2 linked regions of the Homo sapiens genome follow. The protein of the gene in region 1 interacts with the protein of each later gene in a biochemical or structural test. Each region holds a gene or a part of one and is shown in the gene's direction. Other genes may lie near its edges.

The links. Proteins that work in one complex are often made in the same cells at the same time.
Region 2: the proteins of TCERG1 (region 1) and CYFIP2 form a complex in vitro, tested with the Homo sapiens proteins (one study listed by BioGRID).

What each region holds. Positions count from the first base shown.
Region 1 is NC_000005.10:146,457,333-146,460,832, forward strand, and holds part of TCERG1 (transcription elongation regulator 1), read left to right. Parts: coding exon 1-3; intron 4-1,551; coding exon 1,552-2,005; intron 2,006-3,500. UniProt on the Homo sapiens protein: Transcription factor that binds RNA polymerase II and inhibits the elongation of transcripts from target promoters. Regulates transcription elongation in a TATA box-dependent manner.
Region 2 is NC_000005.10:157,272,623-157,276,122, forward strand, and holds part of CYFIP2 (cytoplasmic FMR1-interacting protein 2), read left to right. Parts: intron 1-3,500. UniProt on the Homo sapiens protein: Involved in T-cell adhesion and p53/TP53-dependent induction of apoptosis. Does not bind RNA. As component of the WAVE1 complex, required for BDNF-NTRK2 endocytic trafficking and signaling from early endosomes.

The sequences.
Region 1 (3,500 bases):
AAGGTAAATAATAAAATATATTTAAGTTGTCATTTGTTGACAGAGGAGTAAAACTTAAAGAGTTCTGGCAGATTGAGGTCAGTGATACTGTCATTTAAGAATGAGCCCTGGGTGAGCAGGGAATGGGGTAAGACTTCAGGAGAAGCTGACTGGATTTAGTTTTTGTGCAGCAGATATAAGGTTGCCTGGAGTGCTAACACACATTTACCTGTGATTCTGGAAGCTTCTGGTCACATTGGTACCATCTGCCTAGCACATACCAAATTCCAGGCTCCTAGAAGGAAAGCAGGTGTTCAGCGTAGCTGGTTTAGGCACATCGAGCCATTCTTATCAGTAAGGGAATGTCAACCCTCCTGAAATCCAAGTTCTTGGACTCCAGATAAGGGTCAGCAGGGCTTTCTACAGATAGCTGTCTCAGGTCTGTTATGTTGAATTTCTGCATAAAACATAACATGGGTTTTCCTTTGTGCTCATTATAGAAAATTGGGCTGTGGGGTGGAATTACCTATTTTTGTTGTTTTGTTTTTGTTTTTTGAGATGGAAGTTTCACCCTGTCGCCCAGGCTAGAGAGCAGTAGTGCAATGTTGGTTCACTGCAACCTCTGCCTCCTGGATTCAAGCAATTCTCCTGCCTCAGCCTCCTGAGTAGCTGGAGTTACAGGCACCTGCCATCATGCTCGGCTAATTTTTGTATTTTTAATAGAGACAGGGTTTCACCATGTTGGCCAGGCTGGTCTCGAACTCTTGACCTCAGGTAATCCCACCCGCCTTGGCCTCCCATAGTGCTGGGATTACAGGCGTGAGCCACTGTGCCTGGCCCTAAGTTATTTTATTTTATTTTATTTTTTATTTTTTTATTTTTGAGATGGAGTCTCGTGCTGTCACCCAGCCTGGAGTGCAGTGGTGCGATCTTTGGTTCACTGCAACCTCCGCCTCCCGGGTTCAAGTGATTCTCCTTCCTCAGCCTCCCAAGTAGCTGGGATTACAGGCGCCTGCCATCACGTCTAGCTAAATTTTTGTATTTTTAGTAGAGACAGGGTTTTACCATGTTGGCCAGGTTGGTCTCAAACTCCTGACCTCAGGTGATCTGCTCACTTCAGCCTCCCAAAGTGCTGGGATTACAGGTGTGAGCCACCGCGCCCAGCTATTTTTTATTTTTGAGATGGAGTCTCCCTCTGTCACCCAGGCTGGAGTGCAGTGGTATGATCTCGGCGCACTGCAGCCTCCACTTCCTGGGTTCAAGTGATTGTTTTGCCTCAGCCTCCCGAGTAGCTGGGATTACAGATGCCGGCCACCACACCTGGCTAATTTTTTTATATTTTTAGTAGAGATGGGGTTTCACCATTTTGGCCAGGCTGGTTGGTCTTGAACTCCTGACTTTAAGTGATCCACCTGCCTCTGCCTCCCAAAGTGCTGGGATTACAGGAATGAGCCACCACGCCTGGCCCTACGTTATTTTTAAATAGCTTTAAAGATAAAATATGGTTCCATTCTTGTTTTTAATAATAACTGACAGATTTTATGATACCATTGATTTTTGCTTCCGCTGCAGGTTTATTATTATAATGCTCGGACACGTGAATCTGCATGGACCAAGCCAGATGGAGTTAAGGTTATTCAGCAATCAGAACTGACACCTATGCTTGCAGCCCAGGCACAGGTTCAGGCTCAGGCCCAGGCGCAGGCTCAGGCCCAGGCGCAGGCTCAGGCCCAGGCACAAGCTCAGGCCCAGGCTCAGGCTCAGGCCCAGGCCCAGGCCCAGGCCCAGGCCCAGGCCCAAGCCCAAGCCCAGGCCCAGGCTCAGGCTCAGGCACAAGCTCAGGCCCAGGCCCAGGCTCAGGTCCAGGCCCAGGTCCAGGCACAAGTGCAAGCACAAGCAGTTGGAGCTTCCACCCCTACGACCAGTAGCCCAGCACCTGCAGTATCCACTTCAACATCATCATCCACCCCTTCCTCTACCACTTCTACCACAACAACTGCTACTTCAGTTGCGCAGACAGTATCAAGTGAGTACCACTCAGCATGTGTTTTTATATAGGGGCTAGAGACATGAACAAGTAGGGGACTACATTTCATATTGATCCCAGTGTTTCTGGTATTATCCTTTAATACCAGAATTATTTAAAATACATTTTTGACACTAAAACTTTTGGGTTAGAGGAAAACAGGAATTTATATTAACAGGAGAAATTATTTGCCCAGTTGCAGTTTATGAAGCTAAATTGAGAAAGTGCAAAGTTAGCTGTTCCACTTGGCCAACAGTAATGCCGGGCATTGTGGGTTTGCAAAATAAGTGTAAGTCTTGGTCCCTACCTTACAGTTTCCAGTATTCCTAATCGAGGAGGCAAGAATAACACGTGTTAAACAATTAGATATTGGTGTGCAAAACTATACAGTGAGAAAGATGTAAGAATTTGAGAAGTGGATAAATGAGTGGGTGGACTACATGGGTATTTATCATGAAGGAAACGGAGTAGGGTTTAAGCAGGTTCACAGGTAAGGAAAGGATTTTCAGGTAGGAGAAGCAACATGAATAAAGGTCAGGAAAATGATAAATGTAGTTTATGGGTTTTTAGGAAACTTCTGAGGTGAGAGGGTGTTTTTTTTGAAGGGTCTTAAGAACTAGGCAAATAGGTGAGACAGGCACTGGGGGCCTGTATAAATGCAGTATTTTGGAGGATTTTTTTTGGTGTTGGTTTTTTGGGTGGTGATGAAATAAGGGAGGTTTATTAGGAGCTTCTCAGTAATCTCTTTTAGAATAGTTTCTAGACTGGGATGCGAGTAGGTGAATTGAGGAGTTGCCATAGAAGGGAGCAGTCAGAAAGGCAGGAGAATTTTCAGGTGTAAACTCACAGAGGCCCAAAGAGTAGATCTTTTCTGAAAAGGTGAGAGTCGATTAATAGCAGATTTCAGAGATTAAGAGAGGGACACAGCTATTAATTTGCTTAAAAGATTGTTATTAATGTGACAATATTGCTTTCTTTTTGGGGGGTTTCTTTCTTTTTTTCTTTTTTCTTTTTTTTTTTGTATCAATATATGGATGTTGCTCCTTACTCTGCAGGTTGAGACTAAGCCCGAAAGTACTTAAATAATGATTTTTTTATTTGATTATTTGTTATGGCACTTGTCTCAAGATACACAGCTGTCCCTACAGTGTGATTATAATTTGTATTATTTTACTACCAGGATAATTGATAAGAATAAAGAAAAAATGTGGGGTTTTTTTGTGATTACTTCAGGGACTTGGGAATTATTAGTGTGTAAGAAATACGTATAAGAGAGAAATTAATTCACATTGGCTTCAAATTTGAATTTATTTTATTGATAAAAAGCAACTGAAGCAGTCAAGTAAGGTACATATAATATGGGGATAGCCTTTAAAGATCCTCTTAATGGTTTTTAGACATTTTGTAGCGGGGGAATGTACTGAACAGGAAAATATGAATAGTGTTTTACAAATCTGTTTGCTTTTGTAGTGAAGGTGAATTTTGATATGAAAGT
Region 2 (3,500 bases), about 11 Mb from region 1:
TACTTCCTGCTGTGATGGATGGAGATTTCACTTTCTTACACCATCTCCCTCCCTCCCCTGCCCCCGTCTCTCAAGATAGGAAGAGCTCTATTTTAACCTAAATCAGGTTTAAAGTGTCTACATTATTAATATATATAAATGATGATCACAGACAGCCAAGTAAAGTCCTTTGATTATATTTCCTTTCTTAGAGGGCTTTTCATTTCGCTGCAGAATTTTTGTTGCAATACTTGTCTTTTTATTTATCTATTTATTTATTTTGAGATGGAGTTTCACTCTTGTTCCCCAAGCTGGAGTGCAGTGGCGTGATCTCAGCTCACTGCAACCTCTGCCTCCCAGGTTCAAGCGATTCTCCTGCCTCAGCCTCCCGAGTAGCTGGGATTACAGGCGTGTGCTATGACACCTGGGTAATTTTTTAATTTTAGTGGAAATGGGGTTTCACCATGTTGGTCAGGCTGGTCTTGAACTCCTGATCTCAGGTGATCCACCTGCCTCGGCCTCCCAAAGTGCTGGGATTACAGGCACGAGCCACTGTGCCTGGCCCTGTCCTTTTCTTTTAAAGCTCTGTGTCATATGAGTTATTCTATTGCAGTCCCTTGTCTTCTCAGGAAGTGCAGTGTTAACCCTAGCTCCACCCCTAACTAGCCCAGTGACCTTGCACAAGTCCCTTCTCTTTTCTGAGCCTTGGTTTCCTCATCAGTAGAAAGAGAGCTAGGCTCCCTTCTTGTTCTCATTCTAAACCTCAGAACCTATCACCCCACCCACCTCACAGGCAGTAATATTATTACTCCTCAGTTAATATTATCTGAGAAGTCTTTACTCCAGGGTGGGGCAGCCCCAGGACCTGACAGATGGCAGAGAAACCAAAACAGGCAGGGGCAGGGGGAGGGAACAAACAAGCTAGCTGGGCCTGCCCTGTATGGTCTAGTTCACCCCTGCAGTTTAGGGGGCTGCTCTGTGGGGTGGTATGGTTGTATCTATTACTCTTTTCCTCCCCTGCTATCCCCGTTGGTTTTTGCTCTCCACAGCCTCTGCTTGTAGGGGCATCATTTACAGTCCCCAAACTCCCCAAGCTCCTACTCTACCCCCAGCTCTCTTTGTACCCCTTCTGCTTATGTTACACTCAAAGTTTCCCAAAAAGTAGTTATAAAAATACTAACTTTTGGTAGCAGCTTTATTGAAATATAGTTTGCATACTGTACAATTCACTCATTTAAAAAATATAGTTCAGGGCAGGCATGGTGGCTCATGTCTGTAACCCCAGCACTTTGGGAGGTCAAGGTGGGTGGATCACCTGAGGTCAGGAGTTTGAGACCAGCCTGGCCAACATGGCAAAACCCTGTCTCTACTGAAAATACAAAAATTAGCCAGGCATGGTGGCAGGTGCCTGTAATTCCAGCTACTCGGGAGGCTGAGGCAGGAGAATCGTTTGAACCCGGCAGAGGTTGCAGTGAGTGAGATCATGCCATTGCACTCCAGCCTGGGGAACAAGAGTGAAACTCTGTGTAAAAAAAAAAAAAAAAAAAACCGTTCAGTGGTTTTTAATATATTCACAGAGTTGTACAACCCATAATCGTAGTCAGTTTTAGAGCATTTTAGCACCCCAAAAAGAAATCTCATGGCCTTTAGCACCACCACCTATTTCCCCCAACCCCACCCCTTGGCAACCATAGATTTGCCTATTCTGGGCATGTTTAATAAATGGAACAATACAATACGGGGTCTTTAATGATTCGCTTCTTTCACTTAGCATAATATTGTCAAAGTTTATTCATGTTGTATCAATATCAGTACTTAATTACTTTTTATGGCTGAAAAATACTCCATGTGGCTATACAATTTTTTATTTATCAGTTGATGCATATGTTAGTTCTGCTTTTTAGCTATTACAAATAATGGTGCCATGAACATCCATGTACAAGTTTTTGTGTGGACCTGTATTTTCATTTCTCTTGGGTGTATGCCTAGGAGTAGAATTGCTGGGTCAAATGGTAACTGTGTGTTTAAAAATTTGAGGAAATACCAATCGATTTTCCAAAGTTGCGGCACCATCTTACATTCCCATTAGCAACGGTATTCTCAGTTTCTCCACATCCTTGCCAACACTTGTTATTGTCTGTCCTTTTCATTATAGCCATCCTAGTGGGTGTGAAGTGGTATCGATTTGCATTTCCCTAATAACTAAGGTTATTAATCTTTCTGTGTGCTTATTGGCTATGTGTATATCTTTGGAGAAAAATCTGTTCCTTGCCTATTTTTAAAATCAGGTTCTCTTTATTAATGAGTTTTAAGAATTCATTTTTTAAATTTATTTTTATTTAAAAAAATTTTTTTGTAGAAACAGGGTATCACTCTGTTGCCCAGGCTGGTCTTGAACTCCTGGCTTAAGCGATTCTCCCATCAACCTCCCAAAGTACTAGGATTACAGGCATGAGCCACTGTGCCCAGCCAAGAATTATTTACATATTTTATATACTTAGCAAATACATGATTTGCAAATATTTTCTTCTATTCTGTGGACTTACTTTCTTGATGGCGTCCTTTGAAGCACAATTTTTTTTATTTTGATGTTTAGTTTATTTTTTATTTTGTTGCTTGTGTTTTTGTTGTTATTACATAATTCAAGGTCACAAAGATGTACTCTTATGAGTTTTATAGTTTTAGCTCTTACATAGATCTTTGATCCATTTTGAGTTAATTTATTATATATTACATTATTTATACCTCACACCATAAAACAAATTTTGCATGTGGGTATCCAGTTGTCCTAGAATCATTTGTTGAAAAGAATATTCTTTCTACATCTCTTGTCAATTGACCATAAATGTGAGGATTTATTTCTGGATTCTCAGTTCAATTCCATTAATTTAATCATTGTTCATTGTCTTCATGGTAACACCACACAATTTTGATTACTGTAGTTTTGAGTATGTTTTGAAATCAGGAAGTGTGAGTCTTCCATTTTTGTTCAGTTCCTCCCACCCCCAAGATTGTCTTGATTATCCTGAGTGAGTCCCTTGAATTTCCATATGAATTTTAGGATCAGCTTGTCAATTTCTGCAAAGAAACCAGATGAGATTTTCATAGAGATTATGTTGAATCTGTAGGTTAGTTTGGGCAGTATTGCCGTGTTAACAATATTAAGCCTTCCAACCTATGGACATGGGATATCTTTTTATTTATTTAGGTCTTTAATATTTTCAACAAGGTTTTATTGCTTTCAGAGTGTATGTTTTGTACTTATTTTGTTAAGTTTATTTCTAAGTATTGTATTATTTTTGATGCTACTATAAATAGAACTGTTTTCTCCATTTTATTTTCATATTGTGCATTGCTGGTATATAGAGATACTACTGATTTTTATATGCTGATATTGTATCCTACAAACTTGCTGAACTTGTTTATGACTTTCAATAGTTTTTAGTGGATTTTTCTTGGATTTTCTATAACAAGACTATGTTATCTGCAAATAGGAATAGTTTTACTTTTTCCTTTCTAAT